Homo sapiens: one gene and its partners. Each later gene encodes a partner of the first gene's protein in a complex. Each region holds a gene or a part of one and is shown on either strand. Other genes may lie near its edges. The genes, in order: CUL3, KBTBD4, KBTBD8 and KBTBD2.

Region 1 (7,035 bases):
CCAGCACTTTGGGAGGCTGAGACGAGTGGATCACTATATCAGGAGATTGAGACCATCCTGGCTAACACGGTGAAACCCCATTTCTACTAAAAATACAAAAAAATTAGCCGGGCGTGGTGGCGGGCGCCTGTAGTCCCAGCTACTCGGGAGGCTGAGGCAGGAGAATGGTGTGGACCCGGGAGGTGGAGCTTGCAGTGAGCTGAGATCGCGCCACTGCACTCTAGCCTGGGTGACAGAGCGAGACTCTGTCTCAAAAAAAAAAAGAAAAAAAAGATGAATAGTTATTTAAAAGCTCTTATTTTCAAACTTTAGTGTACATGTTTACTCTTTGAGACTGGGAGTGGGATGGCACTGGAAGACTTAATTAACCAGCAGTATGCCAGCAAAGCTTATGATAAACATGATGAATCTTTCTGGTTATAATTTTACATTAAAACAAATCAAAAAAGAATGTCCCACTGTATCTTGGAGTCAGATGCTTCTAAGCTTTTGACCCTCACTGGCGTGTATATACTTGTTCTGCTATTTTTTGGAGTACATTGGCACAGTTTGAAAAACATTGCTTACAGATAATGTTTTAATTTAGTATTATGTAAATACCAAAGGCTTTAAAGGATATAATTCAGACTATATCAGTCTTTCGTGTAATGAGAAATTACACAAAATGCTAATAGTACTTATTTTATTTAGGCTGATTTATTATAAACACTGTAGAAACCCAGCTAAAAGCAAAAACACTCTTTTCTTCTATGTTTAAAAAATATATATATTTTTAAATGGCAGATGGAAAGCCAGAAATTTTTAGCAGAAAATAGTGCTTCAGTATATATAAAGAAAGTAGAAGCTAGAATTAATGAAGAAATAGAACGAGTGATGCACTGCCTTGACAAATCAACGGAAGAACCAATTGTAAAGGTGGTTGAAAGGGAACTCATTTCCAAGCACATGAAGACTATAGTAGAAATGGAGAATTCTGGGCTAGTACATATGTTGAAAAATGGAAAGACAGAAGGTAAGTGTTACCGATTGAAAAATAATTAAATCCTTACTCTGCCTTATCGATATTTTTAAAATTTTCCTACAATTAAAGCAGATAATATCAGCTTTCAAGAAGTTTTGGTGTGTATTGTTAATTTGTCTCCATTGTTAACTTTAATGGGATTTCCAAGCTTGATTCTGTCTTACTAACGAAGATTTTAGATATTTCTAATGAATTGAGCATTTCCTGTCTTTAAGTCTCATTTTACATTTAATCCAGAAGATAAAAGGTGTAATAGTATTGGTGAGCCCAGTGAGCTCCTCATTCATTCCTGTACTTCCTGTATACCAAAGGGTGTGGGCTCTCTTTAGTCCTACATACTCTCTTGGGGTTTTGTGATTCTCTTAAAACCTTAAGTTTCCACCTTAAGATTTTTGTAGACTTTCCTTTGGGATTTAGTTGTGACAGGGTGCTGAAAATGCAAAAATATTTGTGTCTTCCATATTGACATACTTAGATAAATTAGATTGGTTTGGGGAACACTGAAGTTACAGAATGGAAAAGGAGGAAGGAGGAGTGCATAAAAGTAAAGAACATTTTTGAGATAACTAACATTTGTTTTTTATAGCTATTTATTTTCCTGGGGTAAAAGAAAAATTGTGACAAGTATCCTAGAAGAAATTACAAGTTAAAAGAACAATAACCATATCCTCTATTCTTAGTTTCTGATGCTTTGTTTTAAAACTTTGCCTTTACCACTTATATGGTATTAGGAAATAAAAAACATGGTACTTTGTTCTCCTGCTTCCTAGACGAAATCTAAGCAATATTTTATCCACTTCTTTTTAGTAAAAGAAATACATATTGCCTGTTGGGGTCATGAGCTATGTAGGGAATGAAAAAATTTTTTAAAGGAGAATTATAAAGAGAAGGAGGATACAAGAGAAAGGAAAACGAAAGCTGGTGGGAAGTTGAGCCATGTTTATCTCTAGTGGAATCCTTACCTTGTGTTTTAAAATTGTTAAATGTTTGTATATATGAGAAATCCCTGAAAAGTTATATGTAATTTAAAAAAACAAAAAAAAAACAAAAAAAACTAGAGAGGCTTCCTTTTTAAAAGACTCTTCAGTTAAACCTTTTTTGTAAAAGCCAAAAAAAAAAAAAAAACAGAAGTCATCTAGTATATTTGCTGTGTTTTCTAAAATTGAGGTCCAAGTCAGGGGTTGGCAAGCTTTTTTGTTGTTGAATAAAATGGCTTGTGAGCCACGCAGTCATAGTGAGAAAATAGTCCTAGACAATAACAAATGAATAATCCTGTGTTTCTATAAGACTTTATTTATGGGCCCTGAAACTTGAATTTCATATAATTTTTATGTGTCACTAAATAGCATTCTTTACAGTTTTTCCTCAGCCATTAAAAATGTGAAAACCATCCTTAGTTCATGAGCTGTACATAAATAGATGGCAGGCTGTATTTGCCCCACGGGTTCTAATTCGATGACCCTTCTCTAAGTGGTCTCTGGTAGACTGGGACTTTATGCAAAGCATTTGCCCTGCTTAAACAAAATGAGTATTGATAAATTATGTAATGTACTGTTTAGGTATTGAATGAATGCTTTCTTACCTACCTTAGGGGATAGGAAATGTTTGATGGAGAGGTTGTTGGGCATACCTGAATTACAGCATCTCTGTAACCTGTGTGGAGATGTATGTAAAAGGTGTCAGGTATGCCTATCATGGCGAGCACTTACGTGAATGAAGGAATACCATAATAGTACTCACCAGAGTTCTCCTTTATTTAGTACCTTAGGTTTCCAACAACACAGTAGCTATCTGTGATTCTAAATTAAATTTTAAAATCCTGCTTTTGTCCAGGCAGGGTGGCAAACGCCTGTAATCTCAGTATTTTTGGGAGGCTGAAGCAGGTGGATCGCTTGAGCTCAGGAGTTTAAGACCAACCTGGGCAAATTGGTGAAACCCTGTCTCTATGAAAAATACAAAAATTAGCTGGGCATGATGGCACATGCCTAGTCCCAGCCACTTGGGAGGTTGAGGTGAGAGGATCATTTGAATCTGGCTGGGGAGGTCAAGGCTGCAGTGAACCAAGATGATGCCACTGCACTCCAGCCTGGGCTACAGAGGGAGATCCTGTCTTAAGAAAAAAAAGGTGGGGGGGTTAATTTTTCTGAGCTTCCGCTAGAAACCTGGTGGCAAAATATCCTAATTGTGGTAGGCCCTGCTCTTGGAAAAAATGTTGCTCTTGTTGAGAATATAGCAGAGCCAACTTCACCATTATGAAGCCAAATTCTCATAAATCAGAAAATGAAAAACAGTTTTCTCACTGTGAATGGAGGATAAATTGGATTGATTATTAGATGCAGATAGCACTATGAAATGAAGTTCAGAGGTATCTTTTTTTTTTTTTGAGACGAAGTCTTGCTCTGTCGCCCAGGCTGGAGTGCAGTGGTGGGATCTCAGCTCACTGCAAGCTCTGCCTCCCAGGTTCATGCCATTCTCCTGCCTCAGCCTCATGAGTAGCTGGGACTGCAGGCTCCCGCCACCACGCCCGGCTAATTTTTTGTATTTTTATTAAAGACAGGGGGGTTTCACCGTGTTAGCCAGGGTGGTCTCGATATCCTGACCTTGTGATCCGCCCGTCTCAGCCTCCCAAAGTGTTGGGATTACAGGCGTGAGCCACCGTGTCTCGCCAGTATCTTATTATTTTATTAAGTGTATGTAGAAATAATGATATTTAATTTTTGCATGCCAAATTATTTTCATTTACTTTTACATTCCCTTTACCCCAACATTTAAATACAATGAAATTGTAGTAATTTATGTACAACTAAATACACAACATGTAATATCTAAGCAAAACTTACAACAACATAGGATTGAAATAGACAAGTTGTGAACCATTTTGTTAGAAGTATTTGGTGTGCCACATTTACTGTAGTATGTGTCCATAGATTGTTGCATTTGTAATACCTGTTCTAAATATGGGAAACTTGGTTGTAATTTATGCTAAGTATGTGAGAAGCTATAAAATTGCCATGTGTAGGTTACTATGGGCATATATTATTAATGGAAACTAACTAAAATTTGCTGCTGAAAGTCACTGAAATAAAGTTTAGTAAAACTTTGTAAATCTTGCTTTGAAATATTTTAAAAATGTATACAACTTTAAGCTCTAAACTACTCTTAGAACTGTAGACCAAGGTAGGCAAATTAGGGCCTGCCTGGTGCACTACCAGTTTTGTTAAAAAAAAAAAAAAAATCAAGAGTATTTACACATGAAAATTTATATAAATTTTCAGGGTCCATGAAGTTTTATTTGAAACATAGTCACACTGAATAATTTATGTATTATCTGTGGCTACTTTCTTGCTACAGCGTCAGAGTAGTTGAGTCAGAGCTCTATGGCTCACATTTTAAAATATTTATTATCTGATACTTTACAGAAAAAACATTGGTCAGCCTCTGATCTAGAAACTCTTAATGCCATTTTAAAAAGTTATTGATTGTAAAACTTTTAAAATTATCATTGTAAAGTTCTGACACTGTGTTCTCCCAGTAAGTTGTTATTGCAAAGAAACACTAGACATATGGGAAAACTGTATTTTAAAATCTGTATTTTAGTCTTGTGAAAAATGATATTAAAAAATGGATAGGATCCAGAGTTTTCATTCTAAATTTAAAAAGTATAGTGAGATAGACCAAATTTTGAAGTACAGATATTGGCTTAGGATGCTACCTGGGAAACATTAGGGATTGCTCTCAGGAAAATATTGAAGAAGTGGTATTTATATTATACATTTCATAAAAACTTTACCTGAGGTGTAATGAAGTAAATCCTAGTATAGTTCATTTGATTTGTTTTCATGATTATCAGTTAAACCTTTGGAAATACCCATAAGACTTAAACTGGCTTTAAAATTTCTTCCTCATTACAGGGACTACCAATTACCTCTTAATTAGTGACCCTTTTTGTAGACGTTTTGTAGTGTCATTAGGTCTGCATTAGAGTTATGTAGGATAAAGTATTTATGAACTCAAAACTGCAGTTGCCATGTTTTTGTGACATTACTTGTTTATTATGGTTTTTGACATCTCTTCCATGTAAATTTAAATTTGCTAGGACATTTAATTGATGGTTTCAAAGCATCTCATCTAAAAGTTGTGTTTTATAAATTACAATAATAACCATTAACTAGCCTACTTCTTCATGTTTTCATATCAATATATGTATATTTTTAATAGTCATGTGGTCAGCAAATGGGGGTAATGGAGAAATAAGCTTCTCTCAGTATTATAGCGTGAACAGAGATTCGTGTTTTTTTCTTTAATCTTTAATGTAGCCAATTTGTGTTTTCTGATTTGTAGACCTTGGTTGCATGTACAAGTTATTTAGTCGTGTGCCAAATGGTTTGAAAACAATGTGTGAGTGTATGAGTTCCTATTTGAGGGAGCAAGGTAAAGCTCTTGTTTCTGAAGAAGGAGAAGGAAAGAATCCTGTTGACTATATCCAGGTAAGTAAACCCAGAAGATTCTCTGTGTTTATGATAAAGGCATTTTGACAAGTGCTAAAAAGGCCACTTTTACCATGCTGTGTATTGTGTACTTTCAACTTAATTGTCCCAGTAGTAAATTAATATTTGTAATTATCCTACATATTTTAGGATTTTGCAAGGTGTGCGTATTTATATCAGGGAGCTAAAATTCAGCTGCTACTTTTCATTTAACTTCTTTGATGAAGACCTTGTTTAAATAGCCTCAATAGTGAATGTGAGGTTCTTTGGTATGCCTTAGTGTTTGTATACTGTAGTATATTGGAAAAAACAACTGGTTTAAGTATTTTTTGTTTGAAAATGTTTTGTTTTCAAGGAGTACTATGAATAAATTATGTGCCATGTTTTGTGTTTTAACATAATCAGCTTTTTTTGGTACATTTTTTAAGCTAATTTTTTTCACTGGCTAACCCATTCCATCAAGACAGGAGAATGAGAAACAGTGAGGAGGTTCTTTGGTTCGTTTGCATTGTATTAATACATATATGGAAGTTATAATACTTCTCTCATTGACATTTTTAATAGAGGCTTAGATATAGGCTTGAAAATAATATCAAAACTGTAAGTTTAAAAATGAATATACATGTTTATTACCAGCAAAGTTAAGATAAACATACATGGTCATAAGTGTATTATTTATGGAAAAATTATTATAATGTGTCCTAAATTTTGTTTTTATTTCTAAGGGCTTATTGGATCTGAAGAGTAGGTTCGATCGCTTCCTCCTGGAATCATTCAACAATGACCGTCTCTTTAAACAAACTATTGCGGGTGACTTTGAGTATTTTCTCAACCTCAACTCCAGGTCTCCTGAATACCTCTCATTATTTATTGATGATAAGCTGAAAAAGGGAGTCAAAGGGGTAAGTAGTAATGCATTTGAAAATAACATTTAATTTTATTTAAAGATATAAAATTATATGTAAAATTAGGACATTTCACAGATAAAAATTAAGCATGACCCATTGCTGTGCTTAAATGGGTGCCATGGTCTATTAAAAAATATTGTTTGAAATACTTGACATGCCCAAACGTAGTTAGACATTTCACTTAATGTGTAATTGGCTTCAAAAACAAGCAACTGGATGGGCTTGGTGGCTCATGCCTATAATCCCAGCATTTGGGGAGGCCAAGACAGGAGGCTCTCTTGAGGCCAGGAGTTTGAAATTAGCCTTGTTAACTTAGTGAGACTCCATCTCTACAAAAAAAAAGAAAAAAGAAAAAAATTAGTGGCACACAGTGGTATACACCTGTTGTCCCAGAAGCTGAGGCAGAGGATCACTTGAGCTCAGGAGTTCAAGGCTGCAGTGAGCTGTGATCGCGTGACTGCACTCTATGCTGGGCGACAGAGCAAGACCTTGTCTCAAAAAAACTGAACAACTGTCCAGGTATGGTGGCTCATGCCTGTAATCTCAGCACTTTGGGAGGCCGAGGTGGGCAGACCACCTGAGGTTGGGAGTTTGAGACCAGCCTGACCAACTTGGTGAA
Region 2 (4,309 bases), on another chromosome or scaffold:
TGCACACCTGTAGTCCCAGCTACTTGGGAGGCTGAAACAGGATTGCTTGAGCCCAGGAGGTTGAGGCTATGGTGATGGTGATTGCGCCATTGCACTTCTGCCTGAGCGACAGGGTGAGACCCTGCCTCAAAAAAAAAAAAAAAGCAATTTTAGGTTAATTTCATGTATATGTGTATGTATGCATGTACACATATACACATGCCCAGCAGTAGTCTAATAAAGTGGTTCACATCTTTAAAGTCCCTTACTCTGAATTTCTCTTTCGGATTGTCATTGACCATGCCTTTCCTCTGGCTCTCACAGATGGAGTTCCGTGTTCTCAGAACCCAACAGAGGCAATAGAAGCCTGGATCAACTTTAATAAAGAGGAAAGAGAGGCTTTTGCAGAGTCACTCAGGACAAGCTTGAAGGTAAGGCAAATCTCTTAATTGTTGAGACTGCATACTCTCCATGCATTCTTGCCATCAGTTAATTTGGCCTCTTTTTTTTTTTTTTTGAGATGGAGTCTTGCTCTGTCGTCCAGGCTGGAGTGCAGTGGCGCAATCTCGGCTCACTGCAAGCTCCGCCTCCCGGGTTCACACCATTCTCCTGCCTCAGCCTCCCTAGTAGCTGGGACTACAGGTGCCCACCACCACGCCCGGCTAATTTTTGTATTTTTAGTAGAGACAGGGTTTCATCGTGTTAGCCAGGATGCTCTCGATCTCCTGACCTCGTGATCCGCCCGCCTCCGCCTCCCAAAGTGCTGGGATTACAGGCATGAGCCCCCGCGCCCGGCCTTTTTTTTTTTTTTTTTAAGACGGATTCTCACTTTGTTGCCCAGGCTGGAATGCAGTGGTGCAATCTCAGCTCGCTGCAACCTCCACTTCCCAGTTTCAGGCTATTTTCCTGCCTTAGCCTCCCAAGTAGGTGGGATTACAGGTGCTGCCACCACGCCTAATTTTTGTATTTTTAGTAGAGATGGGGTTTCACCATGTTGGCCAGGCTGGTCTGGAACTCCTGATCTCAGATAGTCTGCCTGCCTCTGCCTCCCAAAATGCTGGGATTACAGGTGTGAGCCACTGTGCCTGGCCTAACCTGGCCTCTTTGTGTGTCTGTGTGTGAGAGAGAGAGATGGGAGTTTCGCTCTTGTTGCCCAGGCTAGAGAGAGAGAGATGGAGTTTCGCTCTTGTTGCCCAGGCTAGAGTGCGATGGTGCGATCTCGGCTCACTGCAACCTCTACCTCCTGGGTTCAAGCGATTTTTCTGCCTCAGCCTCCCGAGTAGCTGAGATTTCAGGCGCCCACGACCACGCCCAGATAATTGTTGTATTTTTAGTAGAGATGGGTTTCACCATGTTGGCCAAACTGGTCTCGAACTCCTGACCTCAGGTGATCCACCCACCTTGGCCTCCCAGAGTCTTGGGATTACAGGCATGAGCCAATGCGCCTGGCCTAACCTGGCCTCTTTTTGATGGCCAGATTATGAATGGTCGTCTCTGTTTTTTGTTTTGTTTTGTTTGTTTGTTTTTGAGACAGAGTCTTACTCCGTCTCCCAGGCTGGAGTGCAATGGCATGATCTCAGCTCACTGCAACCTCCGCCTCTCAAATTCAAGCAATTCTTCTGTCTCAGCCTCCCGAGTAGCTGGGACTACAGGTGCATACCACCACGCCCGGCTAATTTTTGTATTTTTAGTAGAGACAGGGTTTCACCATATTGGTCAGGCTGGTCTCGAACTCTTGAGCTTAGGTGATCTGCCCACCTCGGCCTCCCAAAGTGCTGAGATGACAGGTGTGAGCCACTGTGCCCGGCCATCTCTTGTTTTTTTAATTTTTTGTATTTATTTATTTATTTTTGAATAAGTTATCTCTGGCTTGAAGTTGATATGAGCTGGGGAGAAGGATGTCTTTGTAACCCCAGTACCACCAATCTATGAGCTTTCAAAGTTCCTTGAGAACTACTGTCATCAAGTTAACAATCTTAATCACCCTTTGTCTGAAGCACTAGCTTATGAGAGTTTTTTAAAAGCTACAAGGATGAATACAACAGATTCTCCGCCCGGCATAAATTGCCTCAAAGAAAGTGACTAGAGGAGAGTTGGATGCCATACAGTAATTAGAGAGTAGTATGATAAAGCTAGGAACAAGTGTGAGGGCCAGGATCTTAAGGATATGTGTCTTAGCTGAGCCTTAGCCTAGAATTTAACAGCTGTCATATAATTTTAATTTTGCCAATAGGAAATTGGGGAGAATGTGCACATTTACCTGATTGGGAAAGAGTCATCTCGTACCCACTCGTTGGCTGTGTCCTTGCACTGTGCAGAAGATGACTCCATCAGTGTAAGTGGCCAAAACAGTTTGTGCCACCAGATCACTGCGGCCTGCAAGCATGGTGGAGACTTGTATGTGGTGGGAGGGTCCATCCCACGGCGCATGTGGAAGTGCAACAATGCCACCGTTGACTGGGAGTGGTGTGCTCCTTTGCCTCGGGACCGGCTCCAGCACACCCTGGTGTCTGTGCCCGGGAAAGATGCCATATATTCACTGGGTGGCAAGACACTGCAAGATACCCTCTCCAACGCAGTCATTTATTATCGCGTAGGTGATAATGTGTGGACAGAGACAACTCAGCTAGAGGTGGCTGTGTCAGGGGCTGCTGGTGCCAACCTCAACGGGATCATCTACTTACTAGGGGGGGAGGAGAATGATCTGGACTTCTTTACCAAACCTTCCCGACTCATCCAGTGCTTTGACACAGAGACAGACAAATGCCATGTGAAGCCCTATGTGCTGCCCTTTGCAGGCCGCATGCACGCAGCTGTGCATAAAGATCTGGTGTTCATCGTGGCTGAAGGGGACTCCCTGGTGTGCTACAATCCCTTGCTAGACAGCTTCACCCGGCTTTGCCTTCCTGAGGCCTGGAGCTCTGCCCCATCCCTCTGGAAGATTGCCAGCTGTAACGGGAGCATCTATGTCTTCCGGGACCGATATAAAAAGGGGGATGCCAACACCTACAAGCTTGACCCTGCCACTTCAGCCGTAACTGTCACAAGAGGTATTAAGGTGCTGCTTACCAATTTGCAGTTTGTGTTGGCCTAAGGCTGTGGGGAGGGGAGGAGAACTGCTCACTCCTTTTCCCTCCCCATACAAACTCAAAGTCCCCTGGGCCCCAATTCAGAGTTATGTTTTTTTTGGCACATACTAGAAAGGCAGTGCCTCAGCCCTTCCCTGAATCCATGGAGGTGTTCTGTTTGGGGCTTTTTAGACTGCTGCTGCTCAGCTGGTTGCTTGAACTGACAGTAGGCCAGCCTGTTCTCTGCCATTCCCTAGTCATCCTGTGCCTCACCACAGCTTGCTTAGAGCAAGCCTTTTCTCAGACCTTAGGCACAGCCTCTCCTCTTTACCTGATCAATGTTAAATGTAAGCACCCCTGATCCCAGGACATAAGGAAAGATGCCCAATTGTACTTTTGTTCTATAGCCTGTGAAATGGCTAGTTGATCATTTTTCCACAAAGAATTAGGTGTTAAGAGTTTTCCTTCAGGCTTTACTTAGGAGAATGGACTAAGCTGAAGGTGTACTTCACCAGCAAGAGTCAACTCTAGAATTCAGGATGTTCCTTCTATTGTTTTCTTATCCATCTGTCAGGAAATGTAACTTTGGTTTTATTTTTGGCTTATTCCAAGGGGTAAGCCAGAAAATAGAAATGATTATTTCTGATTAATAGCAGAAACTTTTTCAATCTCAAATATATAAGGTGTCTGCTCTTTTAAAAGCTCTAAGCTAAGTCAAGAGCTAGGAACTGTTGATACAAATAAAAGTTTTTGAAGGGATATGTGTGTCTGTGTTGAATTCCAAAGGGGTGACTTTGAAGGGGTGAGGGTGTTTCATTCCCTCAGGGGAACTCATTACGTACCATCACATGGCTCAGTCTGCAGCAGTCCTGACTGCAGCCCATGCTCCCACTTCTCCAGATAGGATCCCTACTCCACAGGGCCAGTGAGATTCAGATTCTGACAGTGGCAAAGAGCCAGAGGTGAGTCTCCTTTTTTCAAGTGCTAAATGTTTTTTGAGTTGTGGTGCTAAATATTATTAGGCACAATATTAGGTACATAATAGATTTTTGTTAAAATACTTCTTTAGCCCTATTCAAGAAAAGATGATAGCCCCATCCCTGTCCTGTATCCCATGAATACAAGCCACACTAAATCTTTTCCTTTCTAGCCACACAACAGTGTTATTTCAAGAAAACAAAACAAGTCAGAGAAAGAAAAATTACCTATTACCTATTGGCACATTTCTGTTACGTCAAGTCTGGGCTTAAGCCCTGTTGGTC
Region 3 (7,154 bases), on another chromosome or scaffold:
TCTAATTCTTCCACTAGTGATGCAAGACGTAGAAACATTAAGTACGATTTTCTACATCCCACACAGGAAGCAGCGCTGGTACCAAGAAACTTCAGTACAAAAACCTCTAGCAAGAGATCAAATTCTAATCCTTGAGGTTTCTAGCCAAATATCTTTATTTCAATGCACATATCGTATCCCCAGAAAATTTCTCAAGTATTTTTTACTCCTTTTAAAAATTGACTTAACAAAATTAAAGAATTTAAGATTTTAAGGAATCAAGAAAATTAGAAATCTATCATAGCATACTTCTTTTAAAGTAAAATTTTTTTCCAGGTCTTCAAAAATAAAAAATGAAACTGCAAGGTGAAAATGTCATACTTATGTAAAGTTACTAATAAGTATACTTACTAAGTATTATACTTAATAAGTATACTTAATATGTATACATATATCATATTTATTATGTATGCTTACTAAGTATTATACTTAATAAGTATACTTAGTAAGCATACATAAGTATGACATTTAAATGATATAATCCAGATTATTAAATTTCAGTAAGATATAGACATTTTTACTTTGCAGTTTTTGTTTTGTTTTGTTTTGTTTTTGTTTTTACTATTCAAATGCAATATACAATAAAAATGTTTTAAAGGAAACTGTACCAACTCTTGTTCCTTAAGAGTCATATGGCTACTAAGAAGCCTGGCTCTGTAATCAAATGTAGCCTCTGCCATTTACTTGTTGGATAGATGATTTAGGCAGGTTATTAAAACTCAATCTCACTGAGCCTCAGCTTCTTCATAAGTAAAATGGAACAACAACTATGCAGAGATAGGATTATAAAGATTATATAAGGCAATACATGTAAAGTAAGCTTAGCCTAGAGCTTGATAAGTAGTAACTGTGACATATATTTAAACATACAAATGACCTAACCATATCTAATAGATAATCTGGGTAAGTGAATCTCACTAGAAGTTTCCATTACCAGGCCAAACTTCATACCTTCTGCATATGTGAGTTTTTTTTTCTTTCCAGCTCACTGTCTTGCGATGATTAATACTTAGTAGTCCAATGACCTACCCTAGGCAAGTCTAAACGGTTACATCACAAGCATCAGACTGAAGTGACTATATTTAACCCAGTATTCTGAGAAAGAGGAACCAGAAACTACTGTTGGAACATTATATGGTTATGTGCCCTATAAAGGTAAGCACCTTCAAAAGGAAAAATCACATTCAGAGTGTGGTTGATAACTTTACTATTATTTATGCACCACTTGTGAATACTGAAAGGCTTAAAGTGAGCATTTGACACAAAAGAAGTTAAGCCCATGCAGAAAACTGCCTTTTCCACTCATCTTAAAGTAGGAAGTTATTTTTCAGACCCAAGTTTTTAAATTTTACTTTTAAAAGTTTTATAGTAGACAATATAAGTAAAAACAAAAACTTCGTTTAACATACTTCTAGAAATCTTGGATATTATTAATTTGGGGCCTTAGGCACAAAGAAACTATATTCATTCTTGCTTTGACCCCCATAGCATTTAAACAATCTATTGAGTGGTAATTTGTTTTTGAAGGAACATGCTACATGTTTTAAACTATTTTATAAAAGAGTCCCATACACTAAAGAAACATGCATTATGGATAACTTTTTGAAAGAAATTCTAGATCAGCACTGTCCAATAAAATTGTCAATGATGAAAATGCTGTATTTCTGTGCTGCCCAATATGGCAGCCACTAGCTGCAGGTGACCAGCAAGCACTCAAAAAGTATTTAGTGTACCTGGGGAACTAAATGTTTTATTTTATTTAACTTATAATTTAAGTTTAAACAGCCACACATGGCTACTGGCTTCCATACTGACCAGCACAAGTCTAGATTTTCTGGTCATTTACCTCAAACACACACACACAGGCCCACTAACTTAAAAAGCAATCACCCGAAATCTAGAAGAATCCCTCAAGTCAAAAGAAGGTCTTAGTTAAGAGAGGACTTGTTTTCTAGTCTCAAGAAACAAAGTCATTGGTTTCATTTCATTATCGCATCTCAATATAAACATCAAGTGGACAATACTGAGGGGGAAAGGGAGCTTGGTGCAGATACCAACAGAAGTTCCTACCATCATCATACCTGAAGTAAGGGCTGATTGCAGCAAGAACGTTTCTATGACAGGAAAATGTTTTCCCGTGATCCACTTCCACTACAATGTCTGTCAACTGTCCTTCATCGTACATTGTTTTGAGTTGCTTAAGAATACTGCAAGCATGGAAGGGGTCCATGGCATCGCTGGCTGGGTCTGAAGATGGAATCCCATTCGGTGTTGGGGAAGACTTACTTAAATCTAGGAGGAGAAAAATCGTACAACTACAAGAAGTGCCGAGCCAGTTACGGCATCGCGGGATTTTTCTGTTTGTGTGTCTGCTTGCTAGGCTTTTTCCCCCTACAAGATATATACAAATGTCTGTGGATATACGCACGACCTCGTGGGACCGCGAGTTAAGGATCTGGGAGACAGAGGGCGGAGCGCGATCGGCGGAACAAGTTCAAAGGCCAGCCTGCTCCTGCGGAGCCCGGCGAGCCCGGCACCCGTGCTCGCGGAGGAAACGCGCTCGCAGCCCAGGAGAGGCGTCTGCGCGGACTCCGCCGAGAGCCGAGGGCAGAGCCTCACGAGGGAAGCTCGAACAACGGCGGCCGCCGGTGCCCCCTCAAGCCGCCTCCCGCTGCCTCCTGGGGCGCAGCGCCGGCGGGTACCCAGCCTCCCCATCCCGGTCCCGCCGGACCGCCCACCGCCCTCCGCACCATTCATCCTCCCTCTTCTCATTCCCCTCCACCGCTTCATCCTTCCCTCTAGCTCCGCACCGCTACGTCCTCATCCCACTGCCTGTGGCCGGCCCCGGCCCACCTTCCCCCTCACCTCCCTCCACGCCGCCCTGGCCACCACACGACCCACCTGCCGACGCGGCCATTTCTCGATGGGGCCCCGACTCCAGCTATTTAAAAAGGAAATGTCATTTCGCTTCTCTAGCTCCCGGGTTCCGGCTCTTCTAAGCTTCCCCTGGCCAATGGGGTGTCCTGTGCATCTGGCTCCACCCCTAGCCTCCGAATTCCTGGCGCTGATTGGCCACGACGCGAGCACATGCGTGTCGGGAAATGTAGTTTGATTGCCCCGGCTCCCGCGTGGTCCGGGTCGGGCGGAGGCCCAAGCCGGGAATTCCTATTGGCTGATTCGGATGGAGGTGGAGAGCAGGGAGCTGGCCAGCCTGTGGCCGTCGAGCGCGCAGTGCCTGCCGGGAGAGGTAGTCTTCTGGCGGAGGAGAACTGTCATTCTGAGGGGCTGGGGTAGGGAAAGCTCTTCAAGTGCGAATTTCCCCATTTTAGGCCTCTCTCCTGGCCCCCGGCACATTTTTTTACCTTTTTCTTCTTCCGTAAACTTCCTGCCAGTGACTAGCTTCCGGTATGAAATCAAGCTCTGCGTGAGAGCTGTAAAACCAGAAAAATGTGGAAATGGACAGGAGGGCTGTTGTCCAAAAATGCAAAGGAAATCTGACGTCCCACCCTGAAGAAAAATATCACAAGGCCCAAAAGCAAGGCGTCTCTGATGAGTCACCTATGACACCCAATTGAAATAGCATCGCCTTGGCCGGGTGCTCTGGTTTCCACAGATTAACTTGGTCTGGTTACAGCGGCTGCTTAGGATCTTCAACTCCCACTGGTGCCTTGCTTTTCTAGCACACCCAGAGAACACCTGTTCCTCACGTGAACATTACAAGGGGATCCAAGATGCTTTACTTTTTGCTCTTGGGAAATGGAGGGGATACAATACTAAGTATTCCGGAATTTCCTTTGAAAAAATACCGGAATGCCCTGAGCCCGGAGCCAGGGATGATTACTGAAGCCCTGGCTCTTTAGTCACTATATGTGAGAACTGACATAAGACCTTTCAACCCCTGAGCGCTTAGATCCTTCATCTGTAACGTGAAGTAATAGTAATCCGTACTCCATGGATTTCATAGGCTGCAACCTTTTGGAAAGAAAATCAAAATTTTACTGTTGACGAATTTTTATTTACTCATCTTGTGTTTCTAACATCTAACGGGGTGCCTGGCACATTATAGATGTTTCATATTTTAAAAATAAATGTAAGGTGCAAATGAGCTAACATTGGGAATGCTATTTCTAGATGTTAAAATGTAAGGAAGTATCAGCGAATGGGAAGAATTTCTAGTAGACATATAGTTAGCCCGTGTGCATAACTTTTCTAGCACTGAAAAGATCAAACCGTTGAACTTCTTGATAAAGAAAGGATCTTGGAATTTAAATTGTGATTGAGAAAGAGAAATAATTATGAAAAACAATTCAGTTCTGTCTTCTAGGTCTGCTGAGAAATTTAGAACTTAAAATACTATAATCCCATGCAAGTTAACAGGAAGTGGTGTTTCCTCATGACTGGGGTTTCTGCATATACATATGCACTTATAATTTCTTCTTTGTGAATGTCCTGTATGCACGTTTCTGGATAGATGAAATTGACTTAATTTTGGTTACTCATAACTTTATTTTTTCGTTTTTATGATGTTGCTTTCTAATTTATTAAAATGGTAGCACTTTATGACAATATGGTTAGTATTGAGGAAAAAAATGGCGTTAATCCTTAGGGTTTGACAACATCTGACGATATTGCAAATAAAAATACAGGGCATGCATTATTTGAGAAATATTTAAACTGAAATATCATTTGTTGTTTATCTGAAATTTAAATTTAATTGGGTGTTCTGTATTTTATCTGGCAACCTTTTCAAATCTGTTAAAATAGAGGAGTTTTGTTTGTGCTTTGTTGTTGTTTTGTAGCCATCTATCTATTTAAGCCTTAAGAAACTTGGCCAATTTTTTAAAAATTCAATTCTCAACTTAGTAACAAACAGACTTGACAATATTGTTTGATTAGTGAGAAGACAGTGTTCTGATTCTTTGACCCACAAAGATTTATAAATTGGAGATGCAGCAGAATACAAAGAACAAAAGCCAATCTAAAAATAAATAGAAAAAAAATTATAGGTAAAAAGTTGCCATTTATATGACACTGTAAATGGACTCCATTCTACTGGGCAGATGGCATTACATAGTAAAGATTTAATCATCACTAAAATGCATTTTTAAAAAACACAGAATATGTAGGAGGATCTCGAAATTCAGTCAGTTGTACCACAACAATTCTTTCTCAATGATCTGTAAGAATACTGGGGAGATTCCTTTTCAGGATTGATACTAAATAGCCAAAGGTTACAGCTTTGTTTTCAAACACCTCTAATTTGAATTTTAGTAAAAACCTCCTGAATCTACTGCACATCTGGAAAGAGCAGCAAAAGTAAACCAGTTTTCATCTTAAGGTATTAAGTACTATATTGCAATTTACTCCTATATTTAAAGTTTAAAGTAAAATCAATTAAGGATGGAAACTGAAAAACTGAACCAGAATATTTGAAGGTCCTATATTTAGTTCAAATTAGACACTTAGAGCTTTATTATTTTAATATTTTTTTTTACCTAGGAATCACAAGCAAAGAGAATTGCTATAATCATGGTTGCTTGAGAGAAGAAAAGTTTTTACGTTTAAATTCTAGCAAAAATGAAGGATTATGAAAGCATCAAATTTGGAAAATGAGAAATTGAAGGCTCCTTGTTTTTTTCTGCTTTCATTTCAAGAGAATGACTTTTAGCAATTATCAGCTATACCCAGGCTACTCTCAATAATACCACACAACACAAGAATGATAGCAACTCTGATGAAGAAGGTGTAAAAGAAAATAGAACTTCACTTCTGCAAATCAATTCTGCAGTTTTCCAATTTCCCTGTTCAGTACTGGTTGGGGCTGTGAAATTGACCAGAGCTATATAAAATGAAAGTAAAGACAGAATACTTGAAACTCATACCTTTTAGCAACTGACATCCTTATATATTTATACTTCTCAGCCTACAGCTACAACCTTCTTGATATTTTCAATGTGACTTTTTTTTCTTGCTTAAAACTTCTGCATTGGCTAGATAAATGAAACAACAAAAGTGATTATTCAATATAAATTTAATATGACATCAGATACACAAAGTTTTTTAAAATTTCTAAAACTTTATATATTGCCCATGATTTAGTTTCTTTAAATACAAAACTCTAAATAGATACTAACATTAGGTTTACTGATTGGGCACCACTGGGCTTTGTTGTATTTTTAGTTTTTTATTCCCTTTGAGGTTATATGAGGATTCAACATGGTAATAACTAGAAGATTGCATTTCATGAATCACTGAATTTGATCATACTGGAGGATATTAATGTGCATTAATTTTTAAGTATTTGGAATTTAGCATATACATGAAAAAAAGACTTTGAAGCTAGTGGCAGTAATATTCAGTTCCTCAGAAATATTGATTGCCTCCTCCCACAACCTGCATTCTAAGAAGGCACTGTCTGAATCAATGTTTCCTATACAAAACTAGATAGATAGATAGATAGATAGATAGATAGATAGATAGATAGATAAAGATTAGATGGATGTAGAGATATGAGATTCCTAATCTCAAGGATCTTATGGTTTATCTGTGAAAATAAAACTTATTCCCATGAAAATCAACTAGAAAATGAGAACTAAGGGCAACCCCTAGTTAGCATAAAATAAGTATTTCCAACAATTAATATTAAGGATTTCGAAAGAGATAAGAAATTCTGTTCAGCTGGTGTGGGATTTAAGCTGAGCATCCAAAGAGGATACACCATAGAACTATTTGCAAAAGTGATGTGGAGTACTTTCTTGCCTAATTGCTTTATCTTGGCTTGACCCAGAAGGTAAAGCATTCACTTTAATATTGATAGGGCTTAATTTAGGAATAGAACAAGGAAAAGGAATTAATGGTTGTGTTACCTACTTTATTGCACTTAATTTCACCTTTTAATTAAATTTTCTAAGAACAAAGTTACAATGAAGTGACCAAAGCCTTGAGAATTTCAATAACCTGCCCGTAGTCTTTTAGGGGTCTTTGGCTCCAAAGCCAACTGTCTTTTGATAACAGCATGTAAAGGTCTGGGAATAAATGGAGTATTGAAATTGAAGTGTAGGATTTTCTCCCTATTGAACATGTCTGGTTCTTTGTCTAACACAAGGTCAATCAAT
Region 4 (7,035 bases), on another chromosome or scaffold:
GCATAAAGCATAGCGAAAGCCTAATCAGAAGATAAGGCTTATGGAAAAACAATGCAAGGTAGGGCTGTAAAGGTAATTTAAAGCCAAATTAGAGAGAGCCTTAAATGTGGTAAGGAATCTGGACTTCATTCAGTAGGCAGTGGAGGGGCAGTTCAAGTCTATAAACATGATCAATGATGTGCTCTAAAAAGAAACCATTTTGTTTGGGGTGAGGTTCAGGCATCATCTCAAGCTTCTAAAGATGATGATCAGAATCAGATGATTCTAACATGCCAGCAGGGTAGAAAGACACTAGCCTAAGGAAAGCCTATGCATATCTCTCAATCTTCATCAAACAAAATTTGGAAGAAACCACCTATTACTAGCTAAGTTTGACCTAGCAAAATCAAAATTTAAAAAGCAGACCATTCCCATAACAAAAGAAAAATAGATATTGAATATATACAATTTATTTAATAAATTAATGTCATTCAAAATACAGTGCCAGAACATGGTGCAGTTGAACATGCTAGTAATGTTTGTCATGAAGCACCTGTGCTCATGTTAGATTGGCGGCGCCCCACTACTGCTAGTGGTTCCTGGGATTAATGCCAGAGCAGCGCTAGTTATCTGCTCTTCTGCACAGCTAGTGCAGAGAATTCCTGAACAGTTCACCTTACTAATCCTAACCCCCACACGCACACAACAGGTTAAAAAAAACACACCCTGACAGCTAACAGATCTATACACAATCACTCTACAGTAATGCTTGTTATTAAATTAAGATGTAATGACCTGGTTAACCCACTCTAAATCTTGAAGATGGAGAACTACATCAGCAGCAGATAGTTATATGCATGAGCCAATGTTAACATAATACAGAAAGTGGAGGCTTTTTCTGATTAAAGCTCCACGCAGACCCGCACAATGAGTGGCTGGCAATTCTTACTGCAAGCCTAGCAACTTAAGTCCACACCTGGTAAATGACCAGCTGACTGGAAGACCTGTATTCTAGATAGACAAGTATAAGTTAGTGAAAAGAGAATACATGCACCTAATAGTATAGTTAGACTGATCCTGCAGTCATAGCTTTCCCTGTGTAATACCATAAAATTATGGAAGATCTTCCTCAACTAGAGTATAGGATTTAGACATTTCTATACCAACACGGACATTAGTGTTAAGTGCAGTTGAATTAATTACACTGAAAACTGTATTCCAGGACTTCAGAACAGAAGCACGGGAATGAAACACACATACTAAAATAACCTCAGCACAATTTGTGATACATCACACTAGGAACAGGAAACTACTTTTATAAATGAACTTTTTGAACTGTACATACACAGGGCTAACAATGTTAGATAATCCAGATTCTTATACTCTCATGATTACACATAAAGTTTCTCAATTATTGAATAATCTATTTCATATTATGGAAGCATATCTTTCTGTAAGACTCACTGATATATATTATACTGATGCAAATATTAAGTAGGGCATAAAAATAAAATTTATCAAAGATAGAATTTTATGTACTCATATTTAGTTCTTTCATAGCCTCTTTTGTTTAGCAAAGAAAATGACAAAGCACATAACTCAGGCGTGCACTCCCTGAACTTCCCCACTATACAGGTGGTAGTGCAACCATTTCTCCATCCAGTTCAAACTCTTCTGTCCCATCCGTTGAAAAAAGATAAGTTGGTGGTTTCCATGGAGACTCTTCAAGGCAGGATGGATAGAGTTTCCCCACAGTGCATCGAAAATCTCTCCCCAAGTCCCACAGTACACGTTCAGATATATGCTGCCGCAGAGACCACCGGTCAAGTTCCAGGTCATATTGGTAGGTGACGTATTTAGCTCGCTCATTTAAGTGGGTTTCTCGCATAAACACACATAGAGAATTTGAGATCACAACAGCTCTAACACAGGGGTCAGAGTACCTCTTAGCAGGGATGTTGGCTGCCATTTTCCACTCATTTTTATTCACATCATAAATTTCCACAGTTACTGAAGACCCATCTACAGTGCCAGAGGGGAGTCTTATGCCGGAATTGGTAGCAATATGCAACCCTCCAATATAGAAAATTTTATCACCAAAAGCTGCAGCTGAAGCAAAGGACCTACTAGTCTGTCTCATGGCCATTTCTACCCATGAGTCAGACCTTGGAAAATAACAGTACATGAGGTTCAGTGTCATCACATAAATGCAGTCATGAACCACAACTGCTGCACTCCATTGCCAAGCACAAGGTAAAGGGCTTACCATCGTCCACTCATCTTTCTCAGTGTCGTATCTTTCTACGGTCCTCCGATTAAGTTCTCCACCTACGCTATCTCCTCCAATTGCATAGATATAGCCTTCACAGCAAACCAAAGATGGCTTTATGCGGACAAAAAGCATTGGGGTCTTTGGAAACCAGGTATTTTGCTGTGCATCAAACCAATAAAAGCAATTCACAGTTCTGAAGGCAGTCTGAAGTTTGCTTGTTTTACTGTGATTTGTTTTTGTGTTTTTCAGAGGAACTTGACCCCCTGCTATGTAGATATCATTATCAGGAGTTACAACGGTCCCAACCTTATGCAAATCAGCTGGTGGGCTACATAACTTGTAAACTTTTTCTGCTTGGGGGCTGTAACAGACAGAAGAGTAAAGACTACAAGGATTTTCTGAAGATGCTTCAATGAAAATCATCATTTCCTCTTTAGTCATCCCAAGTCTTGGTTTGAAAAACTTGGGCATGGACTTATACAGACCTTGAACCACCACTGACTTATCATTGGGTGGCAGACCTTGAAACCAAGCTCTCTGTGTTACTTCTGAAAGTGCATCAATTCTGATTTGGCTAAGAACAGAAGACAAATACTGGGATCGTGATTCTGTGTTATACTCTAGCCACAGCATAGCAGCTTCTCGAACGGTTTCTTCCTTTTCTACATTTAAATTGTCACTACTGAGAATATCTATCAGTAGGTCATGTGACAGCTGCATGAACGCGTCCTGATGATACACAGCAGTGAACTTGTGCTCCACCATTCTTTTAGCACTCTGTTTTAATTCCTCACAACTGAAGAGATCAGCAAAACTCAACAATCGTACACAATTCTCTGCATTTATTTTTTTAATTAAATATTCTCGACAACGTTGTAACACATCTTCTACCTAGAATGAGAAGGAAAAAAAAAACAGGCTGATAGGGCCAGGACAGACACATTTTACTTTTATGTAAGACGTAAGTATATTAATCAGATGCCCATAGTGTAATTTTTATTTTCAGATACACACATCTGGGCTGAGATAAGGTCTTCTGGTAGTAATAAACTCAGAAGACTATAAAATTTTGCAGTATTTTTTCCTGCTCAGTGGCCTACTTAACTGTTCTATTTAGGAACCAGCAGTACAACAATAAATAGGCTCTTAAAAAACAAAACAGCCTTAAAGAATAGGTAAGGAAATTCACACATAAGTCATACTTTCCTAGACTTTATATATAATTGAGAGAACTATATGAAAAAATGTAAATAAATCATAGTATAGAGAAAATTATTGTTGTTGAATAACTGGATTCTGGTTTCCTCAATTTGAACACAGTCACATAAAACCAGAAAATCATGCACAATGAGTAAGAGTAGTTATTTGCCATTCTTATCGAGAGGTAAGATAACAAAGCAACACGAAATAGACTTACGTGCAGTTATAAATCACCTACATTTAAATGACCCATCTTAGCCACTGTAAGCTTCCTAGATTTGTTTTTTCTTAAGAAGGTAGATCTCAGTTGAATCAGATGTGCTACCCACTATACTTATTCAGCATCACAGTGATTAACTAGAAACTGTTTACACTGACAAGTCAGGTTGCTTGGATTTAAAACTTAATTGGCCAATTAGTACCTGGAAACTACTTATTAGGAAAGAAGCTTCACATCTCTAAACTTCAATTTTCTCTTATATAAAATGGGGAAATAATAGTTATCTCCCTCAAATGAGCCCTGTAAGGATCAGATGAGAATATATATAAAGTATCAGTACACCATCTGGTACTGAAACATATGATCACTTCATGTGGTTGATAGTGAAAGTAATATTGGTAGTCATAGAATGCCCCATCTCAGGCTTCCAGGGCAACACAGTCTAAGAGGCAGAGTCCTGTTTTGCATTTGAGCAAGCAGAAGTAGTATACGGTTTTCGTTAAAATGGCAGAAAAAAAATGTTAAGGAGCAGTGTCAATATTTACAGTAACAAAGTATTCTGGAATCAGATTTTCTTAAAATTCCTTAATGCCTTAGTAATTCTGAGAAATGCCTGCTTTTAAAAGAAGGACCAACAAAAAATTAGCTGGATGTGCTGGTGCATGCCTATAATCCCAGCACTTTGGGATTACAGGGAGGAGGATTACTTGAGCCCAGCAATTTGAGACTGCAGTGAGCTATCACCATGCCACTGCATGGTGGCATGCCACTGCATTCCAGCCTGGGCAACAGAACAAGACATGTCTCTAAAAATAAAAAGTAATGACAACTTGCAAACTATATAAAGACAGTGCTTCCAATAAGCATTTCTCCCGTTCAAGTTTGGAATTACTAGTGCACCAGCAAGCTACCCCAGCCTCAGTTTCCCCAGAGTTGTGGGTAGAGTAGAACACTAACGATAAAGTTAGTGTAATAAGGAGTAAAGGTTGGCCAGGTGTTGTAACTCGCACCTGTAATCCTAGCACTTTGGGAGGCCTAGGTGAGAGGAGTGCCTGAGCTCAAGAGTTTGAGACTAGCCTGGGCAACATAAGATCTTGTCTCTACAAAAAAATCAAATAATTAGCCAAGTGTGGTGATGCATGTCTACAGACCCAGCTACTCAGGAGGCTAAGGCTGGGGGATGACTTGAGCCCAGATCGAGGCTGCAGTGAGCTGTGATCTCACCACTGTGCTGCAGCCTGGACAACAGAGCAAGACCCTGTCACACAAAAAGTTGAGTATCCCTAATTCAAAAATTCAAAATCCAAAATGCTCCAAAAACTGAAATGTTTTGAGTGCTGACATGACACTTGAAATACTCACGGGAGCACTTCAGAGTCTAGATTTTTAGATTAGGGATGATGTAAATCTAACATATAATGCAAATATCCTAAAATCTGAAAAAATCTGAAACTGGCTGAACTGGATTTCTGGTCCCAATCATTTTGGATAAAGGGTACTCAACCTATGGAAGATTAAAAAGGAAGGAGACTACATAAAGCATGAACTGAGTTCTGGTTTCCAGAATTATACCCAGGTGTTGGCATTCAACCAGTGTCATGCATACTCATTCAGTGCATATTTATTAAGTACTTAACAAATATCACGAACAGTGCTCTCCAAATTTAACCTTTGATCTAAAGGTTCTCCCTCTGAAGAAACTTAGTGAAATACAGTGTTATTCCAAAACAGGAGATGAAATGAAGAAAAAAACTCTTATATTCCTCTTAAAATTTAAAAAGGGAACATGATGGGGAAATAAAGAGTAAAACAGTTTGTCATACATAAATATATCAACCATCACTTGTTTTGTTTAAATACTTCTCCTTAATTGCTCAATATGGTCACATAGCCATTATAAATATTTATCATAATTTCCACCAAGTTTTCTGTGAAAAATAGTACCATGAAAAATTAGTATATCTAAGCTCTAAGCAAAAAAAAAAAAAAAAAAAATTGAAACACTTAAATTCAATAAACACTGTTAAAAATTACTTTAATTTGGCTGGGAGTGGTGGCTCATGCCTGTAATCCCAGCACTTTGGGAGGCCAAGGCGGGTGGATCATTTGATGGCAGGAGTTCCAGACCGGCCTGGCCAATGTGGTGAAACCCCACCTCAACTAAAAATACAAAAATTAGCTGGGCATGGTGGTACATGCCTGTAATCCCAGCTATTCAGGAGGCTGAGGCAGGAGAATCACTTGAACCCAGGAGGCAGAGGTTGTTGTGAGCCAAGATTGTGCCAGTGCACTCCAGCCTGGGCAACAAGAGTGAAATTCCGTCTCAAAAAAAAATTACTTTAACTTGAAATCAAAATTCTCAGGTATATTAGGTAGTAAAACACACGAAACCAGTATAAAATTTTCACCTATCTCTTTTATTAACAGATTTACATTCCCATCACAAAACTACTTAGTTTACTGGGTAATCAAATCCTATTGTTTTTCCCTTACACATTTTGTAAAAAGAAAAAAACCTTTTACCTTCTAAAACACGTAATAAGAAAATTACATAGATAAAAGACATTACTGGGCCAGGCATGGTGGTTCATACCTGTAATCCCAGGGCTTTGAGAAGCCAATGCAGGAGGATTGCTTGAGCCTGGGATTTTGAGACCAGCCTGGGCAACACAGTGAGATCGTGTCTCTACAAAAAATAAAAATATTGGCCCAGGGAGTGGTGGCTCATGCCTGTAATCCCAGCACTTTGGGAGGCCAAGGTGGGTGGATCACGAGGTCAGGAGATCGAGACCATTCTGGCTAACAACGGTGAAACCCCATCTCTACTAAAAATACAAAAAATTAGCCGGGGGTGGTGGTAGGCACCTGTAGTCCCAGCTACTCGGGAGGCTGAGGCAGGAGAATGGCATGAACCCAGAGGCGGAGCTTGCATCTGAGCTGAGATCGCGCCACTAGACTCCAGCCTGGGTGACAGAATGATACTCCGTCTCAAAAAAATAAATAAATAAAAATAAATAAATAAATAAATAAATAAAAATAGTAGCTGGGCATGGTGGTGCACACCTTTAGTCATCCCAGCTACTCAGGAGGCTGAAGCAGGAGGATCACCTGAGCCCATGAGTTCAAGGCTTCAGTGAACCATGACTGCACCAATGCACTCCAGCCTGGGTGACCGAACGAGACCCCATCTCAAAAACATAAATAAAAAATGTTTAACAATGTTTCCTCACAAAATAAACCACATAATAAACCAATAAGCTACAACTCATGTATGTAACTGAGTAAAAAAATGCTTACCTGTAGGCTGGACACAGTGGCTCACGCGTGTAATCCCAGCACTTTGGGAGGCCAAGGCAGGTGGATC

What was found.
Region 2: CUL3 (region 1) and KBTBD4 share a complex: the UniProt entries of both Homo sapiens proteins name them as parts of the BCR(KBTBD4) E3 ubiquitin ligase complex.
Region 3: CUL3 (region 1) and KBTBD8 share a complex: the UniProt entries of both Homo sapiens proteins name them as parts of the BCR(KBTBD8) E3 ubiquitin ligase complex.
Region 4: CUL3 (region 1) and KBTBD2 share a complex: the UniProt entries of both Homo sapiens proteins name them as parts of the BCR(KBTBD2) E3 ubiquitin ligase complex.

Annotation. Positions count from the first base shown.
Region 1 is NC_000002.12:224,505,331-224,512,365, reverse strand, and holds part of CUL3 (cullin-3), read left to right. Parts: intron 1-783; coding exon 784-1,012; intron 1,013-5,362; coding exon 5,363-5,508; intron 5,509-6,233; coding exon 6,234-6,410; intron 6,411-7,035. UniProt on the Homo sapiens protein: Core component of multiple cullin-RING-based BCR (BTB-CUL3-RBX1) E3 ubiquitin-protein ligase complexes which mediate the ubiquitination and subsequent proteasomal degradation of target proteins.
Region 2 is NC_000011.10:47,571,694-47,576,002, reverse strand, and holds the end of KBTBD4 (kelch repeat and BTB domain-containing protein 4), read left to right. Parts: intron 1-303; coding exon 304-410; intron 411-2,212; coding exon 2,213-3,073; 3' UTR 3,074-3,806; downstream 3,807-4,309. UniProt on the Homo sapiens protein: Substrate-specific adapter of a BCR (BTB-CUL3-RBX1) E3 ubiquitin ligase complex which targets CoREST corepressor complex components RCOR1, KDM1A/LSD1 and HDAC2 for proteasomal degradation.
Region 3 is NC_000003.12:66,994,158-67,001,311, reverse strand, and holds the start of KBTBD8 (kelch repeat and BTB domain-containing protein 8), read right to left. Parts: upstream 3,006-7,154; 5' UTR 2,957-3,005; coding exon 2,941-2,956; intron 2,332-2,940; coding exon 2,121-2,331; intron 1-2,120. UniProt on the Homo sapiens protein: Substrate-specific adapter of a BCR (BTB-CUL3-RBX1) E3 ubiquitin ligase complex that acts as a regulator of neural crest specification.
Region 4 is NC_000007.14:32,867,739-32,874,773, forward strand, and holds the end of KBTBD2 (kelch repeat and BTB domain-containing protein 2), read right to left. Parts: intron 3,143-7,035; coding exon 1,607-3,142; 3' UTR 434-1,606; downstream 1-433. UniProt on the Homo sapiens protein: Substrate-specific adapter of a BCR (BTB-CUL3-RBX1) E3 ubiquitin ligase complex that acts as a regulator of the insulin signaling pathway, modulating insulin sensitivity by limiting PIK3R1/p85alpha abundance in adipocytes.